6 separate regions of the Homo sapiens genome follow, and regions 2, 3, 4, 5 and 6 are each reported to be linked to region 1. The links are microRNA targets in miRTarBase. Many come from high-throughput screens and were not tested one by one. Region 1 holds a microRNA gene; each other region holds the end of a gene's coding sequence.
What was found. The annotated mature microRNA hsa-miR-6749-3p reads CUCCUCCCCUGCCUGGCCCAG and lies in region 1 at 2,088-2,108, opposite strand. An mRNA with a match to its seed (bases 2 to 7 or 8) in the 3' UTR can be bound and repressed. Matches are read on the target gene's strand: a 7mer-m8 pairs with bases 2 to 8, a 7mer-A1 pairs with bases 2 to 7 and ends in A, and an 8mer does both.

Region 1 (3,121 bases):
TCCACCCCTGCAGACTCTCCCCTGAGCGCTCTTCACCATCGGACACACTCGATACATCTTGGTCCCTGCCTGGCTTCCTCCACTACAAAGGCAGGGGTTTTCCTCTGCATTAGTCATTGCTACACGTGACATCGAGAACAAGGCCCGTTGTTCTATGACACACACGTGTAGTAGGCACTCGCCACCCCACTCACCTTGCTCAGCTGGATCTCCATGAGGACATGGTGCTGCCGCCCGCTGCCCCCCTGCGTGCGCCATGAGTTCTGGGGCCGGTTGGGGCCAGAGCAGCGGGAAGGGGAGCTCCTGGGACCTGAGAGGCCAGTTCTTGCCCTGGGAAGAGGGACAGGGGCCAAGCTGACTCAGAGGAACCCCATTCCCTCCCCGTCCTCAGCGGGCCTTTTAGCCTGGGACAAGAGACCCCCGCTAGCCCCAGTCCTGGAAGGCAGGCGGGATAAGGAAGGATGAGGAAACTGAGGCCCACCTGGGGTGGATGGGGCTCAAGGTCTCCAGCTGCTGAAAGTCAGACCTGGACCAGCCTGAGCCCCAACCTTCACCAGCTGCCACCTGCACCCGCTCCTCCTCACCTGTGGCCGGGGTGGGGGCCAAAGTCTCGGCCCCCATAGAGGTGCCAGACGAGGGAGACCTCACGTAGCACCACCCGAGTGCTGGGCACTGGGAAATGGGCAGGTGCCCGCAGCAAGTCCGTGCTGCCGATCGGCCGTGAGAAGTAACCGTCCCTCACAACGATGGGGCCGGGATGCAGCTGTGTCACCACAGGCTCCCCATCTCGGGGCTGCAGGGAGGCCAGGTAGACGTGTGACACAGATGTTCGATCCAGCCCAGCTGCCCCCAGCCCCAGCAACCTGGCCTCACTTCTTTTTCATTTTTTTTTTTTTATAGACAGGGTCGGGTCATGTTCGGTCACCCAGGCTGGAGTGCAGTGGCACAATCACAGTTCACTGCAACCTCTGCCTCCTAGGCTCAAGCGATCCTCCATTCTCAGCCTCCTGAGTAGCAGGGACTGCAGACATGTGCCACCATATCTGGCTAATTTTATTTTTATTTTTTGTAGAGACGGGGTCTCACTATGTTGCTCAGGCTAATCTCTCATTGCTGGACTCAAGCAATTCTCCCACCTTGACCTCCCAAATTGCTGGGATTACAGGCGTAACCTACCATGCTTGGCCTCCTCCCTGTTTTTGATGAAAGATGACACTCCTGGGTTGCTATCACCCGAGTCTATGCCTGAGTGGTCTGTCCAAGAGGAGCCTGAGAATGCCAGGCTCCTGCCAGCCCTGCCTCCTAAGACCTGGGTGAGTTCAGACATTCCCACTGGCCCTTGCAGCCACATGGTTCTCCATCCCTCTTGCTAACTGCCCTCTCCTCTTCCTCCATCCCTTGAATTTCCCAGTCCCTCTGCCCAAAACACCAGGCCTCCTCTTCCTCTGGAAATCCCCCTACTCCATCAAAGCCCAGCATCAGGGCTGCCTCCCTAGGGTGGCACAGACCTAGCACCACCCCCGAGGTGATGGCAACCACCTCCTGCCTGCTTCTCTCACCACGGGAGCTCCAGATGGCCAGGCAACCACCCCTGAGTGTTCCGTCCCCGCTCCAAACACACCTGCCTGGACGGCAAACTGGTCCATCCCTCCCACCACGCACCGGGATGCCCAGGCCGGGAGCATCAAGGATGCAGAACTCATCACTGTCCAGGGTGTCTCCATCGCCCTCCTCTTCCCTTTCATCTTCCTTCTCCTCTGAGCATGACCCTAAGCTGCCAGCAGGGCCCCCGACAGGTGGTGAAGGGGGTGGGGCCCCACTCCGTTCACCTGGGAATAGGTAGACGGAGATGGGCGACGCCTGAGGGAGGTGGCCACCTATAGGAGAGAGGCCAGTTTGGAGAGGCGCCCACAGTGGGTGCCTGACTGTGTCTGCTGTCCCCACAGCACCCCCACTTCACCTGAAGGCTGGGCCAGCTCCCGTAGGCTGCGCTCGGTGTCCAGGAGGGCGTCGGCCAGGTCACGCTGGTTGATGAGGGCCGTCTCCACTGGGGGGCACGAGGGCAGAGAGGCAGGACTCTCCGAGAGCTGGGCCAGGCAGGGGAGGAGCAATGAGTGAGACAGGACAGAGCTCCCCCAACCCCAGGCCCGAGGGCCATGGCAGGGGAGGGGCCTGGCCGAGCTCTGGTAGCCTGTGTGGCCAGGCCTCACCTGTACCTTCTGGCCGGCGATCTCCGTGGGGCTGGGGGGCCGGGGTGGGGGGTGCAGATCGCCTGTGCTCATTACGTACTGGAGCAGGTTGACCAGCAGGGCACAGGAGTCGGCACAGCTGTGCACGTGTACCACATTGTTGGAGCAGCGCAGCTCGAATAGTGGCTGGCTCTGCAGGGGCGGGGTGGGGGGAGCAGCTATGTGAACACAGGGGCCACTGCCTGCTGGCCCCACCCGCTCGCTGGGAGGGCACCGCAGTTCTGATCCTGCCACAGGCAGAACAGGGATGGTCTCTCCTGGAGTGGATGACCTGCCCAGTAACTCCACTGAACAGATGAACAAACTGTTCACCCAGAGGGTGAAAGGGGCTTGGCCCAGGGCCATCCAAGGAAGCAGGAGTGTGCCCACCCACCCTACCCCACTCCCCGTGAAGGGCTCTGCATGCCTAGCGAGGCAGGGCAGGTTATCTCCATCTTACAGGAGATGAATCCGGGGACCTACAAAGGTGGCTGATTCCCAGGGCCTCGCTGGTGCCCTGGCTGCCGCGTCCTCTGGTGGCAGGGCTGAAACCCATTCATTCATTCAGCCAGCATCAAGGGACACCCCCACCAGGGCTGTACTATGGCCCTTTGCAGGAGGGGCGCTAACTGCAGCCCAGGAAGGGCAGGCATGAACTGTGTCCGGAGCCCAGGCACGTGAGGGAGCAGCAGCCCCTGAAGACTCCCTTGGCCCCTGCACCTGCTGTGGCTCCAGGAGCCAGAGTGACAGCCTCACTCACCAGTTTGCCCTCGGTGCTCCCTTTCCAGGTTTTAATCACAAGTTCCAAGAGGTCAACATCCAAAACACAGACATAATCTGCAGCAGAGGCGAGAGAAAGGTCCTGTGGCCCCCTTCCACCCGGCCCCGGCCCC
Region 2 (3,121 bases), not on the chromosome of region 1:
TCTGAAAAATTAGAATTTGTAGTAAACTTTACTTTCTCTCTTGTCACTTATATTAAAGGACAATGGGAAAGACTATGTGTGGTTTCTCTACCCAAATCCCTCCAAACAGAATTAATACGAATCCTGACTTTGGTTCAAGGGAAAAAATTACTTATCTTGATGTTCTTTCTCTTCTACATGTCAAAAATACCATCTGTAGCTCCTGATTTATTTATGGGTGTTCAGAATTCATCACTGTGTTTCCTCTGGGAAGTATATTACTTCTCCTGAGGAAAATGTTTAAGTGTGAGATTGGGGACATGGCTCATACGGTGTTAGAGCCTGTCAAGGAATATAGCAATCAGGCTTTGTCACAAATTGCTGATGACCCCTTTGTCACCTTGTGTATTTCTGTACTTTATTTAAGGTGAAGCTGAGGACATACTGGAAACAGAAAAGAGTAAATTGCAGCTGCCAAGAGGAATGATCACTTTTGAAAGCATTGAAAAAGCCAGAAAGGAACAGAGTAGATTCTTCATAGACAAATGAAATCATGCTTACCAATCAAATCTCAAAGCACAGAATTATTGACTTGAATCATGGTTTTTACAGTTTTTTAAATGCTCAAGATTTTGATATTATAGATTTTATTTTAAAATATTAAAATGCAAGATAGTTTTGAGCTATTTTAAAATAAAATTTATAACATTCAACACAAAATCATGGAGGTGCTCTAAATAACTTTTAGATTTCCTCTCTCTGTGTGCATTACCAATATCTAAGTGTAAAATTAATAAATTGTTTTGAATTCCTGGAAGCAAATGCCCAGCTGCTCTCATTTCTCTGTCACACATACTTTCCATACCACATTCCATTTCCACAGATGCTTCTGTATTTTGGATTTGTCAATTGTGTCCTGCCCCTACATGACAGAAAACAGTATTGTTTGACTAACATATATACTGCATTTTCTATGACTGGCACTGTTCTGAGTGTTTTGTACAAATTCTTGTAATCATCCCAATAATTTTATGAAGCAGGAATCATTTTATAAATGTGGAAACTGAAGCACAGATAAGCAGCTTGAACAAAGGCAGAAGCACGCAAGCCAAATCCAAGAAGTTGCTGCAGGTCATCCAATTTGGCTGGGCCAAAGCCATACTTGGCCAGGGCTTGGATTTGAACAAGTGTGGCTCCAGTGGCTGTGCTCTAAAAGGCCTTGACAAGGCCTTAACTGATGCTTAACCTGCAAAGAAAAGCTATAAAAGGGAAAAGGTAACAACATTCAAATAATGACTCAGGGCATAGTTGCTAGAGAGGTGGAAACAAGAGAGAGGTAGATTTGGATGACTGCCTTTTTATTTAGACTCACTGGGAAAACTCCTCATAAAATACTCCTATATATAAGTATTTCTTCAGATGCGAACCCTACATATAATATGCTCATTCCAAAGAGATTTATTGATACTACTTTGTGCCAGGCACTGTTGTAGACACTAGAGCTACATCGGTGAATAAGTAGACAATGTCCTATATCCTGGGCAGAGGAATATATTCTAGTGAGGGGTGGGATAATTGGGGCGGGCAACAAATTAACATCAAGATAAATAAGATCATTTCTAATCCTGGCAAATGCTTCAGTGGAAATGAAACAGAGTGATAAGAGAATGATTGGGTTAATGAGGTGGTGCTACTTTAGATCGGTACTGCAGACACTGCCTCTTTGCAGAGGTGACATTTGAACTGAGACATGGCATGGCCAAATAATAGAAAGAAGCCCAGGAAGAATAATAGGAGATTAAATATTAAGGTAGGAACAAGCATGAATATGATGTGGTCCCTACCTTCAAGGAGCTGACAACGTATCAACATGTGTTTTGTTACAATTTTAGCTTTAGAGAAACTTGAGCCAAGTCTTGAAGGATGCATAGAAGTTCTCCATGAAGGTAAACATTGAAGAGGAAGGGTGCCCCAAGCAGGAGAAGCAGCTTGAACAAAGGCAGGACCGTGCAAGCCAAATCCAAGGAATTGCTGCAGGTCATTCAATTTGGCTGCAGCAAGGGGTTCCTCATGTGGGAGACTTTTTCAGAAATGATCCTGGTGGAAGTACAATTCAATTCCTGAAGAGCCTTGGATGTAACAGCAAGCAGTTTGGACTCTTTCCTGAGGGTGATAGCAGTGAAAGAATGCAAAACGGGATTTTTACCCAAATTTGTAGATTAGAGGGGAAAGATCCCAGATCCCAAGTAATGAGGAGCTGCAATGATCCATCTGAGTGCTGACCAGTGGCCTGAATTAAGGCTACAGCCTTGGGAATGGACTCAAGATTATGAAAATAGAGAATAGCAGTACCAGGAAACCAGTTTGAGGTCACAGAGTGGGAGTTGTTTTCCCTGCATTTTTAATCTGTGTGGATTATCTAAGGCCCCTAGAGAACATGGGAAAGAAGAAGTACTGGGAGGAACACTGGTGGACTCATGAATGCCCAAGACCTAGTGCTGGTTGTAGGTCACACCAGAATCTGGAATTGTATTTCTTTCCCCACAATTCAATCATGCTATTCAAATGTTCCTGATATAGTCTAGCCAGAGCTCACCAAGAGTAGGTTTGATGCCTCTGCAAAGGCTGATCGGCTCAAGACCTTATCTGGGATTTTCATTGCTGGCAACATAGCCAGGCCCTGGGCCCCCTTAAGAACACCAGGCTGTTCAATTGTATTGGCTTCTTGGCTTCTTCCTCTGGCACTGACACTGAGTTTATTAATAATTCTACCTCAGTAGAGGCCCTGCTGAAAAACATACGCACACACTTACACTCATACTGTTGTTTGCTCCCAATTGTATAGTGAGGCAAAAATCAAAGTGGAGCTATTAAAAATGACCATGCAGCACAAGTATGTTGTAACATTTTTCAGTGTTATAACTGCTGATTATCCAAAGCTTTTCCTCTCATTATTACATTGTCCTTTTGTTGAAAGGAAAAACATTTCTGCTGTGATGCTTCTGAGCTATTTCTTCATTTATATTAATTAAATATTTATTTATGCTTATGATTAATCCCTAATTACCAACTAGACATCTGATGTTTCCAAATACTGAAACTTATATGGTCTTCTATAAGAAACTAGCTTATAATCATCACA
Region 3 (3,121 bases), not on the chromosome of region 1:
TGCAGGGTCTGCAAAATATCTCAAGCCCTGATCTTCGGAGCAGTTTAGGGAGCCTCCAGCGGCACGACTCCTAAACCATAATTTCTGATCTTGTGGCTAATGTTAGTTCTACAAAGGCAATCTAGTCCCCAGGCAAGAAGGAGGTCTGCTTTGGGAAAGGGCTGTTACTGTCTTTGTTTAAACTATAAACTAAGTTTTTCCCAAAGTTAGTTCAGCCTATGCCTAGGAATGAGCGGGGACAGCTTGGAGGTTAAAAGCAAGATGGAATCAGTTAAGTTAAATCTCTTTCACTGTCTCAGTCATCATTTTGCAAAGGCAGTTTTAGGCCTCTCCCTCTCCTCTCATCACAGCCCACTGGCTCCCTGATGCTGCATGTGGTGACAAGTTGGGACCTGGGCCCAGGCCGCGGGAACTCTTGCCTCAGGCCTGGGTTAGCTGTAGGCTGGGCTGTCTTGGTTCCTGAGCCAGGTTCCAGCATTTCCTGGTGGGAGAGTTTGGGACTGACACAGTGTGTCTCCCAGAAGAGCGTGCCTTTTCTCTCCCTCTGTCCCAGGCAGAAGGGCAGATGCGGGCAACATCACCGAGGCTGTCCAGCTGCCTCACCAGGCTTCCGTGGTTTCTCAAAACCCAGGGTCCTGTGATCCCTGGTCCATGGCAGAGGTGAGGATGGGAGTGAAGCCAGTTACGTCACCCCCTCCTGCCTGCCCAGTGGACAAGCACAAGCCCGGGGTCAGGATGCAGAGGGAGCAGTCCGGGATTCTGGGGCAGTCGTTCCATGCAGGAGCCGCTCTGAGTGTGTCGGCACAGTCCTGGCCAGTCCAGCAGATGGACTCTGGTGGCAGGGGCTGGGGAGCAGAAGGGGAGATGGGAAGCTGGCCTCCAGCCCAGCAGGAGCACCCCCGACCAAAGGGGTGGTGGAGGGGCTGAAGACAAGCTCAGCACCCGTTCTCTTCACCAACAGGCCACAGGTGCCCAGGAAAATGAGCAATACGAGATCGGAGCATTGATAAAAGTGACTTTATTGAGTTGTCCAGGGTCTCCTTACTTCCCCCAGCTCTGCAGTCACCCATCCCCAGCTCAGTCATAGAGGAGACCACCTTCCCCCCAGAAGAAGGAGCTCAGGAAACTAATCAGTGTATAAAGGAGAGGACGGAGAGAAATAGGGAGTCTCTGGTTAGGGACCTTGAGTCGGAGGAGGGGATCCTCAGTAGAGGGCACAGGAGGAAGAGGAGCCTGGGGACAAGAGAAGCAAGAAGCCAGGGGAGGCTCTCAGTAGAGGCGGAGGGAGAAGACAGGAGGAGCCCACAGTGTCCTTTTAAATCTGGCCACAGCCTGGCTTTTGACCTCGCCTCCAGCTTGGTTCCACCCACCTTCCCCTTGCCCCTCTTTGCACCCTCTCTTCCAGCCCCAGGGTGAGTCTTGCTGCTGCCCAGACATTCTGAGTTGTTGCACATCTTCCTTGCCTTGTCCACACCTTTCATCTAGGGGCCTTCTCTGCTCTTGCTTTTCTGTCCAAAGCTCTCCCTGTTCTTTTTTTTTTTTTTTTTAGAGAAGGTCTCGATCTGTGGCCCAGGCTGGAGTGCAGTGGTGTGATCTCAGCTCACTGCAACCTCAACCTCCTGGGATCAAGTGATTCTCCTGCCTCAGCCTCATGAGTAGCTGGGATTACAGGTGCCTGCCACCACGCCCGGCTGATTTTTTGTATTTTTAGTAGAGATGGGTTCCTTGGAGGTAAGAGAGGTTGATGATGGCAGATTCTCAGAGACCTAAGGCAAAATCATTTCTAGCAGTTTGAACTCCCTTTAGTCCAATGGGGGAGGCAGTCCCTCCCTTTGGAATAAGCTCCCCGGGTTGCCTCTCGCTTTGATGCCCCTCACTCTGTAGGAGACCTCAGTCTTAGAGTTGCGCTCTCGAAGCCTCTGTTTGTGAGCCCAATTCAGGAAAGGGTGGGGCTTCACTCCCCCTCAGCTGGGGGCTCCCTCAGGGTACCCTTGGCTTTCTCTGCCACTCCAGGCCTCAGCTCTGTAGGGCAGGAAGAAGCTGGTGGTGGACGGGCTGTGTGGGCCTGTAATCGCCCAAGGGGTTCACGTTGCGTGCTGCCTTGGGTGATCCACCCACCTGAGTCAGTTCGGGCCTGGCGCGCTCACGCCTGTAATCCTAGCACTTTGGGAGGCCAAGGCGGGCAGATCACGAGGTCAAGAGATCAAGACCATCCTGGCCAACATGGTGAAACCCCAACTCTACTAAAAAATACAAAAATTAGCTGGGCGTGGTGGCGCGCGCCTGTAGTCCCAGCTACTCAGGAGGCTGAGGCAGGAGAATCACTTGAACCTGGGAGGCAGAGGTTGCAGTGAGCGGAGATCCTGCCACTGCACTCCAGTCTGCTGACACAGTGAGACTCCATCTCAAAAAAAAAAGAATCAGTTCAAACATCCTACAGCGAAGCCTTTGAAATCGCCCTGGGCCAGGTGCAGGCTCCCTCCTCAACCTGCCCCCCCACAGCCCCTCCTCCCTTGCTCCCACCCCACCTGCTGTCATTCTCTGTTATGGGTTTTCTGAGTCTAGCACAATCCAGGCACAGAGTAGGCACCAAAAAACTCCAGGCACCAAAGATGGTGTTGGTTAAGACGACACAGAGAGAGAGAGAGAGAACCAGCACAGGTATTTAGGGGGAATAAAGGAGGGAGGGGTGGGATGGGCTTGGGGGCAGGGGTGAAGCTGCACAGGAGGCAGAGGGGGTCAGAGCAAAGGAGAGGGCATAGGGGCAGGAGTGTGGGGTGTGGCTGGAGGAGCATCCTGGGTCATCAGACCACTGTGCTGAGGATGGAGGAGTCCTCGGAACGCACGGGCAGCACTGGGGCCCGCTTGAGGGAGCGCCTGGTCTCATCTCGGTTCTGCCACACATAATGCACCAGATAAGCCACCATGAGTGTCAGCCAGCCCCCCATGGTGACCAGCAGGGCCACATCGGTGCTCCTCCGGGCCCCACCCCACCCCGACCCACACAGCTCTTCCTCCCCTGCCAGCAGCAGGAACTCCTGCCCCACGAGGTCCGGTCGGGCTCCTGAGCCACACACGATGCCTGTCCCAGTGCCCGGCACCAGCCTCACCTGCCGGAGCA
Region 4 (3,121 bases), not on the chromosome of region 1:
TGGTTTCTGATTTCACTGAGTTGGGATTAAATCAGTGTATTCCTCCCACTGCATAATTTAGGACTGCTTTAAAACGATGTAATTACAAACCTCAATGGCAGATTGTGAATTGCATTCACTGTCATAACTGCATTAGTATGGTTTTAAATTCTTTCAGAACAGTGGGGTAAAGATGTCATGTTAATATGGTAATAAGTTCCATTGCTCTACTATATGTCTGCTATTGATTATCTGCAGCAATTGTAGATTTGGATGGGATCCAAAATTAGACACAGAACCTTGAAACTTGCCAATGTTTTGTTCATCTACAGTAATTTTAAAGAAAAAAGTTCTTTAAAACAATAAAACTGGATGAAAGGGTTAGTATAGGATTTTAAACTTATGTAATTGCAGACTTAATTTTATAAATAGGTACAGTCCTGATCTATCGGTCTTCCTGAAGGAGGGAGAGAACATTTTGGGTAGTTACCTACTCTAATTTTGATTACTTTCTACGGAGTGAAATTGAAATACTTTTTGAAGGTTTTCCAAAGCCTTATTTGACAACATTTGCTATATTCACTCCCGTTGCTCTGCCAACCCCCAATCCTGTCCCTTATCATGAATTCTTTTTTCATGCCAAGTCTCAATTCCCTCTTCTTTTTCTGAATCTAGAGATGGTAGGCCCATTTAAACTGAATGTAGTCTGCCTCATCCAGGAAGCCCACCTGGATGAGATTTTGGTCACACACTTTCCAGTTTTACGTATACAATGAAAATGTCTTTTCATGCTTAAAAAAGTCCTCTCACATACTTTCTTTTAATTTAAGGTGTTCATAACCTCTAGATATACACTTTCCTTTAGTGTAAGGCCTTTGGTATGTGGAAACTCATGTATCAAAATTAGCTGTATTATTCTGCTGGCACCAAAGCTTGATTCATTAATTTAAATTCATTTCAGCCATCTTCATCAAATTTCTTTGTTAAATTTCTTTTAACAATCGAACTGTTTTGCTACTTTATAAATTACTAATTTGGGAGAAACAAAAAAATAGCTTGTCTACATATACAAATCGAGAAGCTATAATTAAGTTCCTGCTTGTCATTATCTACAAAGATATACACTTTGATCAATATAATTTTCCTGCCATGCATTTCTGGGTGTTTATAAATGAACTGAATTGTGGTGGGAAAAGATCCCAGTGCCTCTTAACGACTACAATAACTCTCTTGTAATTTTCTCAAAGCAAATGGTATTCGTTTACTCTTTTTCTTGAAGTTCATAATAAAAGCGAACAGCTTTTTGTTAAGAATCTTCAGGTTGTTAGATCTAAAGGGTCTGAAACTAGATAAATGCATACTTTAAGGAAATAAGCTTTTAAAGCAAAGGGGTGGGGAAAATACCCCCACCTCTTTAGCTGCGCAGAGTTCAGTCTTTTTTTTTTTTGAGATGGAGTCTCCTTCAGATGCCCAGGCTGGAGTGCAGTGGCACGATCTCTGCTCACTGCAACTTCTGTCTCCCAGGTTCAAGCAATTCTCCTGTCTCAGCCTCCCGAGTAGCTGGGACTACAGGTGCCTGCCACCACGCCCGGCTAATTTTTGTATTTTTAGTAGCGACAGGGTTTCACCTTTTTGGTCAGGCTGGTCTTGAACTCCTGACCTCAGGTGATCCACCTTCCTAGGCCTCCCAAAGTGCTGGCATTACAGACATCAGCCACCGTACCTGGCCTTGTTTTTTGATTTTAGACAATCGTTAGTAAGTTTAACAATGGATACTGAAAAGGATGTATTACTAGCATTGTAACTTACTATAGTCTATGAAAATGCACTGAAGTAAAAGGTGAATTTAGGAATAATGAATTGGTACCTCTCTCCCTTCCTCGAATTTGGCTGATAAATAGGGATATCTGGCTAACAAGTTCCAGTCCAGGTGTTGCTGGTTTCCAGAAATATTCTCTTCCCTGCAGCTTTCCACTAGTCACTGTTATGTTGTGTGGCAAATGATTAACTCTCACCTCGGACTTTGCCTGCCTGCTTTTAAGTATGATGGGATTCAGTCTTGGAATGGAAAAAATACAAAAGTCACCTTAAGCCTTACAGTGCAAGGGTTTTAATAGTCCACACTAAAATAGGCTGTACAGTTTTGTAGTTTAACATTAAAAGCAATCCTGCCTTATTTTAAAATGCTTCTACTTAAGAATGCTTCTTCCTCCCCCACTCCTTCACTTAAGGTATAAGTCTACCCCTAAAGTGCATTTCTCAGGCATTAAAAACAGCACTGTGATTTGCTTTCCACAGAGTCCTAAATAACAGCCACCTTCTTCATTTGAGAGGCTACAGAGTTCAAGCTGAGCTGTGACAGGAGCCAGGGGGCCAGGGCCCCAGAATAGCTTTTTGAAAAAAAAATAATTATGCCACCCTCCTCCGCGGCAGGTATCTTCTCTTACCACAAATAAATATTTAATGCATCCTTGGAGTCATGAAATATTGAGAACCCAATTGACACTTCAATTTCCAGAAAAATAAAATCATGAAGGCATTGTGTAAATATTCTGAATTTGGTGGAATGAGACAACGCGTAAGGGGGCGGGCCTGAAGTCTCGGGTTTGGAACTGGGGGTTTGGGGTAGTGCTGGGTAGGCAGTCCTGGAGCGCGCAGGCTATTGGGGCTACTGCTTGTCCTCGTGGGGGTCACCAGGAAAGCCTGCCTCCTCCGGGGACCTGCCCGCCTCCGGGAGCAGCGTGGCGCGCACTTTCCTCTTCTCCTTAAAGCGGCCGGAGCGCGAGATCTTCAAATTGCGGCGGCTGCTGCCGGATTTGTCCCCGTATAACTTGTCTGGTTTGGGGGGCTCGCCGGCGCCCCCGAGGAGATTGGGGTGCTGGTTCTCCCGGGAGCTGCTGGTCCAGTCCGGGCTGGGCGGCGCAGGTGGCGTGGGCTCCCCGGGAGCGGGCTGGGCGGGAGGCGGCACCCCCACTGCGGCTTCCTTGCTTTTCTTTCTGCTGTTGGTGAGCGATTTCCACCAGGGGCCGGAGCTGCCAGCATCGCCGCTGTCGGCCATGGCCGGAGGGCCTAGGGGCTCCCGGCACCCAGATGGAAGGGCCAAAGCGGCCCCTTTCTCCACGTGGTCTCCGGCCGTTCACTC
Region 5 (3,121 bases), not on the chromosome of region 1:
GAGGCCAGTCCCCAGGAGCAGCCCCAGGAGCACAACCTGAGATTTCTAAGCTTGCAGGTTACAAAAAACAAAAAAAACAGAGAAGCTGCCTGCGTAAAAAGTGCCACCCACGGAGGCAGGACACAGGCAGCGTGTGGCCCATTCAGCAGGCCCAGGTCTTCAGGGTGAGGCTGCTGGCGAGGGCAGGGGAGAGGGGGCATTCTGGTTAAAAGCAAGAAATTCCAAATACTCCTCCCTCGGGATCAACATCCCCCCAAATAAGGGCGCCCAGGGATCTTGCCTGGGGAAAGTGGGGTGCAGAAGGCATGACCCACGCCACAGCGGGCTCTCAGCACCCTTCCCACGTCCCATGTCACAGGCTCTTTGAGCTGCTGGCTTTGTTCTCTCAAGTCAGGTCTGAGGGAACCCATCGGCTTCTGTAATAATCGTATTGCCTATATACTTGAATTAAAAATATATGGTGGCTCAAATGTGCCCGCGTGTATGGCAGACGGTGCGGGGTGGAGGCCATCACGCCCATACACGTGTGCACACACAGCGGGGGGCTGTGTCCACGGACTGCGCACACAGTATATATTAACATATATATTGCTCAAGTATATATGCTATTTACAGTATATATCTCTATCAACATAAAACACAGGTATTTATAGGTGTGTACAATAGATACGTCCTAGGAAGTCTAGGGGACACACGACTCTGGGGTCACGGGGCCGACACACTTGCACGGCGGGAAGGAAAGGCAGAGAAGTGACACCGTCAGGGGGAAATGACAGAAAGGAAAATCAAGGCCTTGCAAGGTCAGAAAGGGGACTCAGGGCTTCCACCACAGCCCTGCCCCACTTGGCCACCTCCCTTTTGGGACCAGCAATGTACGAGTTTTGTTCTGGAGTTTTGTGCAAAACAAATTAACTTAAAAAAAAAAAAGTTGGTTTCTAATTAATGTGGTGGGCCTTCAACACCCACAAGGATTTTAAAGAACAGCTTCTCCTTCTGGTGGGCTTCCAGGGCTCAGAGGGTCCCACTCAGAGAAGCAGGGAACACTTTGTCAGGACTAGAAAATATCCCTTCTCCTCTGACCACAGAAACAGCACAACTCGGCTGGGTGTGGTGGCTCACGCCTGTAATCCCGGCATTTTGGGAGGCCGAGGCAGGCGGATCACTTAACTCAGGAGTTCAAGACCAGCCTGAGCAATGTTACGAAATCCCGTCTCTATTAAAAAATACAATAACTAGCCAGACGTGGTGGTGCGTGCCTGTAATCCCAGCTACTTGGGAGGCCGAGGCAGGAGAATCACTTGAACCTGGGAGGAGGAGGGTGTAGTGAGCCAAGATCGTGCCACTGCATTCCAGCCTAGGCAACAGAGCCAGACTCCCATCTCAAAAAAAAAAAAAAAAACCCCCGCCAGAGCCAAAACCACAGGGGCCCTTGGTCCTGCTCATTCAGAAAACCACCCCACTGGAAGGGACACCACGGCTAACCCCATGCCTCCTGGACATGACCACTCAGCTGGCCTGCCACCTGGCTGTCCACCTCCCCATGGCCCTCGGGTTCCCTCACCCCCTCCGGTGCTCAGATAGAACTACAGCTGGTTGGTGGGAGTTCCCATGTGGGGTGCCAGCGGCTCCAGCGTCTTGTAACAGATCTCTGCTCCTAGCTTCCCTTCAGAAGAGAGGGCCCAGGCTCCTGTGACATCTCCCGATTCCCACTGCCTGTCCCTGGAGCCACAGAGCACCAGCTTAGTGACACAGAGCCTCCAGGCTCCCTTGACAGAACTCAAACAGGTCCTATCCCTGCCAAACAGAAACTACCGCCAAGAGCACCCTGGGTGCAAATACATTAAATAAAAAACTAAAACAAAGTATGGTTTTCTCTATTAAGGCTCAGTTAAGCTGCCTCCTGGGTCAAGTACTCATGAATGCCACAGCCCCCAGCCAAGGGGCGGGTGGGCAGGCAGGTGACTTGGGGGCAGAGGAGGGAGGAGGACGGCGGGGAGTCCTATGCTGGTCTAGTTGTCTGTTGGGGAGGTGGGACACCACCTAAGAAACCTCAGGCCTGGAAAGCCAGGGATGTCCCTACTGGGGGAAGCTGAGGCTCTACCTGCCCAAGTCGGGTCCAGGGAGAGCCGAGGGGACAGGAGCTGGTGCTCCAGGCTGGTGGGTCTCCTGGGACCCTCCCTCCTCCCCCAAGGACTGAGTGCTTGTGGGGGAGGGTCTGGACAGGGCCCTCTTGGCAGTCTTGCTGGGAGTCGGGCCCAGGCCCTGTGGTTGGCAGGCGAGGTACAGGGGGAGTCTGGGTCCTTCCCAGCTCGGGGATCCCACCTGGGTTCCTGTCTGAGCCTCACCAGCCCCGATGACCTGAGGGGGCCACGCTGGCCTCCACTCCGAGGGAACCAGCCCTGAGCTGATGGAAGCAGAGACCAGTGACCACAGTACTCACCCCCAAACCCTCCAGGGCACCCCAAACTCGGCCCCACCCCGCCAGCCCCAGCCCTGCAAGGTGACATGACAGCTGGCACACCGGTGTCTCGCAGGAGGGACCGGCTTCCCTCGGCATCTGCCCCTGGCCGTGGGTGAGGCCGGATGAGAAGGCGGATCAGCTCACAAGCTCCCTGGGCCTCCGAAAGCATTTTCCGGGGTGGGGGAGGTAGGGAAGAGAAAGGTCGTTCTCTGGAGGGTCGGGGGGCTCCGGGAAGGCAGGAGGGCATGGAGAGGCCTTGGCGTGGGCCCCTGCCCTGGAGGGATTGGCAATCGAGGGAGTCTCCCACAGAGGCCCCTTCCTCAGGGTCCCCAGGCTGATTTTCCAGTCTGTAGAGAAATACTGCAAGATCAATCTTCAGGGTTAGGGCTGGGCCCGGGCGGCGGCAGGGAGGAGCAGAAGAGACCCTTCTAGTGCTTCTCTGCTTGGCTGACCTTCAGGGCACTGATGACACCATTGATGTTCTCTTCGGGGACCTGTGCAGGGGTAGAGGAGGCAGATGCCTGCCCGTGAGCCCAGGAACCTGCTTCCCCACCCCGGCCCTGCCCTGGAGGGGTCTGGCGCTGGACACTCACAAGTGCATGATCAAACTTGAAAGTACTGATGTAGTAGGCTGGGATGTCTGCAGCAGCCAAGGGCTCT
Region 6 (3,000 bases), not on the chromosome of region 1:
CTGACCCATAACAGACTGTGGAAATGATAAAAAGTCCAATCTTGTCCTTCTTCTAAATGCCCTTAAAGCCACTGCCACCAGCCGGGTGCGGTGGCTCATGCCTGTAATCCCAACACTTTGGGAGGCCAAGGCAGGTGGATCACCTGAGGACAGGAGTTCAAAACCAGCCTGGCCAACATGGTGAAACCCCTTCTCTACTAAAAATAGAAAATCAGCCAGGCATGGTGGCGCATGCCTGTAATCCCAGCTACTCGGGAGGTTGAGGCAAGAGAATCACTTGAACCCGGGAGGCGGAGGTGGCAGTGAGCCCAGATTGCGCCACTGCACTCCAGCCTGGGCAACAAGAGCGAAACTCCATCTCAAAAAAAAAAAAAAAAAAAAAAAAGGATAAAAAGGCCACTGCCATCAATAATGGGATGAATTGTCATCCTGGAGAATGGTGCTGCTGCAGGTCTGACCGGCACAAGCTAGACCTGACAGAGGCCTTGGCTCCCTGTCTCCGAACCTCCTTCCCTAAACCCTGTACAGCTTCCTGGGCCAACTCTAGCCCCAGTACGGCCACCTGACCCACAGCTGATAGCTCCCTCTAGAGGCAACGATTTTTCTTTACTGATAGGGACTGAAGAAAAAGACTTGACCTTCATACAGGCCGCATTTAAAGCCTGAAGGCAAACCTAGATTGAATGCAAATGCAATTACAGGGCACCAGTTTCATTCTTCCAGAGCCTTGCTGCAAATGACCTCCAGTGAGTATAACTGTAAGATACACGAAAGTGGAGAAAGGCAAAACATTGATGGTGATGGATTGTCTTAAAATTCTTTACAAGGCCAGCACAGTAAAACATCATATGAATGAGCCAGATTTCAACATAAATAAGGGGCAACTAAGAAGCTAGACTCAATTGTCTCAAAGGTATCAAAACTAATCACCATAGCAAGGTTTCCTGTGCTTATTTTAAGTCCTTTGCTGTTGGGTCTAAGAGGTGCTGAGGGGCCACTGTAAAATACTAAAGACAATGATAACCAACAGTTGTATAAGTGTATATAAGTGTTAAAACCCACACATCCTAATAGTCTTACAATGTGATCATGCTGGGAAGATGGAATTCTGTCAAAGCGGTGGTCACAATACCAGTTTGAACCTCAGCCCCAGGAAGTATCCTGCTGTCTTAAATGCAGAAATGATGTGACCTGGTCCCATCACCCGTTTACACAAACCACTTCCAACCTAGAGGACAGAGTCGGAAGCACCAGGGAGAACGTGGAGAATGGCAGTCTGGTCACCAGCCGCCGGCACCCCCAGGAAAAAGCTCTAAATGGCAGGGTTGTTCATAGGTGCAAGTTCAGGTCCAGCCTCCCACAGGCAATAATGGAGCTTTCCCAAGAGCTGGTCTGCCAGTCCTTCTTCCTTCAAAACAGCCCAGTCTCCAGCTCTGCCCTGTGGTTGTCTCTGGCCTCAGATCAGAAGTCAATTTGGACAAATCTACTTTTATAAGAGCCCCCAGAAGAGGTTTTCCAGATTATTATTTTTTTTTTTTGAGATGGAGTCTTGCTCTTGTTGCCCAGGCTGGAGTGCAGTGGCGTGACCTCGGCTCACTGCAAGCTCCGCCTCCTGGGTTCATGCCATTCTCCTGCCTCAGCCTCCTGAGTAGCTGGGACTATAGGCGCCCACCACCACGCCCAGCTAGTTTTTTGTATTTTTAGTAGAGACGGAGTTTCACTGTGTTAGCCAGGATGGTCTCAATCTCCTGACCTCGTGAACCGCCTGCCTTGGCCTCCCAAAGTGCTGGAATTACAGGCGTGAGCCACTGCGCCTGGCCCCGAGGTTTTCCAGATTTGAAAGAAATTTCCTCAGCATAAAACCTCAGGATTAAAAAAAAGGAAGGGCTCTTGGGTCCAAATTTATATCTATCAAACCCGTTTAAATTTTTCTTTTCTTTTTTAAAAGATAAGGTCTTACTCTGTCGCTCAGGCTGGAGTAGTTGGTGTACTCCAGCCTGGAACTCCGAGGCTCAAGCAATCCTCCCGCCTCAGCCTCCCAAAGTGCTAGGATTACAGGTGTGCATGAGCCACCATGCCCAGCCCTATCTATTAAACCTTGATTGAATATAACAGACCAAGTACAACTGCACCAAATGGATGGGCTGTAACCATCCACACTGGCTCCAAGGAAGCAGACCGCTGGACCCCAGCTCTGCACATGGCTCAGGCAAGGCCCGTGGCGAGCCCTTGTATCCATTATGCTTGAGATCCTGCAGGTCGGCCTTCTTCCTTCCTTCTCGGTACATTGTAATGGCCCCAGTTTCCTTATTTTTATCCTGATTCTAATAACCAGGTCCCTGAAGAACTTTCTGAGGAATCTCTGTTTTAATGGCACACAAACTGTTCTCTGCTGTTTTACTCCCTCTGGACAGCAAGTATGAGTATCACACAGAAGACTAGAACAAATTCTAGCTCATGCAGCTTTAAAAGAGAAACTTAAGACTACTATATGACATTCACGAATTACACAAAAAACACTGTTGCTAATAAGGGCACCATTCATGGCCATGAAACTCCATCATGTCTCTTGTGGTCAGGCTTGAGACAAAGCTTTCTGGTAGGAAAGTTTCTTCCCTTATTAAAAACGCGAGCATCACTTCATTTTTCGACAGAACTTAGGTCTTCGGTATGGTTTCTCTTTATGTGCCTCCTCAGGTTCTCTTGCTCCAATTTTCTCTGATGCTCCAGGAAGTTTAAAATTGTAATCCGTTGTGACATAAGGTACTGTCCCTTCGATCCCACGCTGAAACGGAAACACAGAGAATGCATGGAAACACTCCAGGTCCAGCCCAGAGGGGTTTACAGTGCTCTCTCACACCTAGAAGGCAGTGTCATGGTGATGGTCTGGGTGGGGACTTCTCACTTTTAAGGCATTTGATCCCTTCCTTCAGAGCCCCCTTTAATCAACTGGCTCGGTAACAAACGTGCCAAGGCCTCCCTTCTGTCCCATTCCATCAA

Region 2: the mRNA of PLGRKT is a reported target of hsa-miR-6749-3p. The part of its 3' UTR that is shown has no 7-base or 8-base seed match.
Region 3: the mRNA of LRRC3C is a reported target of hsa-miR-6749-3p. The part of its 3' UTR that is shown has no 7-base or 8-base seed match.
Region 4: the mRNA of PRR15 is a reported target of hsa-miR-6749-3p. Seed matches in the 3' UTR shown: 8mer at 2,186-2,193.
Region 5: miRTarBase lists CASTOR2 as a target of hsa-miR-6749-3p. Seed matches in the 3' UTR shown: 7mer-m8 at 2,180-2,186 and 7mer-m8 at 230-236.
Region 6: the mRNA of NOL9 is a reported target of hsa-miR-6749-3p. Seed matches in the 3' UTR shown: 7mer-m8 at 2,021-2,027.

Annotation. Positions count from the first base shown.
Region 1 is chr11:64,900,300-64,903,420 of GRCh38, forward strand. MIR6749 (microRNA 6749) reads right to left here and starts at 2,156; the gene lies at 2,088-2,156. ATG2A (autophagy related 2A) reads right to left here. Exons shown (of 41, transcript NM_015104.3): 26 at 2,989-3,065; 27 at 2,217-2,381; 28 at 1,961-2,087; 29 at 1,663-1,877; 30 at 585-793; 31 at 195-330. RefSeq lists an enhancer at 22-151.
Region 2 is chr9:5,355,646-5,358,766 of GRCh38, reverse strand. It overlaps PLGRKT (plasminogen receptor with a C-terminal lysine), which reads left to right. Exons shown (of 6, transcript NM_018465.4): 6 at 407-796. The coding sequence ends at 528. Among named protein-coding and RNA genes, the nearest start is that of RLN1, 17 kb to the right of the region's middle.
Region 3 is chr17:39,944,418-39,947,538 of GRCh38, reverse strand. LRRC3C (leucine rich repeat containing 3C) reads right to left here. Exons shown (of 4, transcript NM_001195545.2): 4 at 2,540-3,121. The coding sequence ends at 2,805. Among named protein-coding and RNA genes, the nearest start is that of GSDMA, 17 kb to the left of the region's middle.
Region 4 is chr7:29,566,246-29,569,366 of GRCh38, reverse strand. It overlaps PRR15 (proline rich 15), which reads right to left. Exons shown (of 2, transcript NM_175887.3): 2 at 2,074-3,121. The coding sequence starts at 3,037. The coding sequence ends at 2,648. Among named protein-coding and RNA genes, the nearest start is that of PRR15, 4.0 kb to the right of the region's middle. RefSeq lists an enhancer at 3,046-3,121.
Region 5 is chr7:75,024,468-75,027,588 of GRCh38, reverse strand. CASTOR2 (cytosolic arginine sensor for mTORC1 subunit 2) reads right to left here. Exons shown (of 9, transcript NM_001145064.3): 8 at 3,055-3,121; 9 at 1-2,955. The coding sequence ends at 2,890. It also overlaps a transcript of RCC1L not described here. Among named protein-coding and RNA genes, the nearest start is that of RCC1L, 48 kb to the left of the region's middle.
Region 6 is chr1:6,523,219-6,526,218 of GRCh38, forward strand. It overlaps NOL9 (nucleolar protein 9), which reads right to left. Exons shown (of 12, transcript NM_024654.5): 12 at 1-2,785. The coding sequence ends at 2,636. Among named protein-coding and RNA genes, the nearest start is that of NOL9, 30 kb to the right of the region's middle.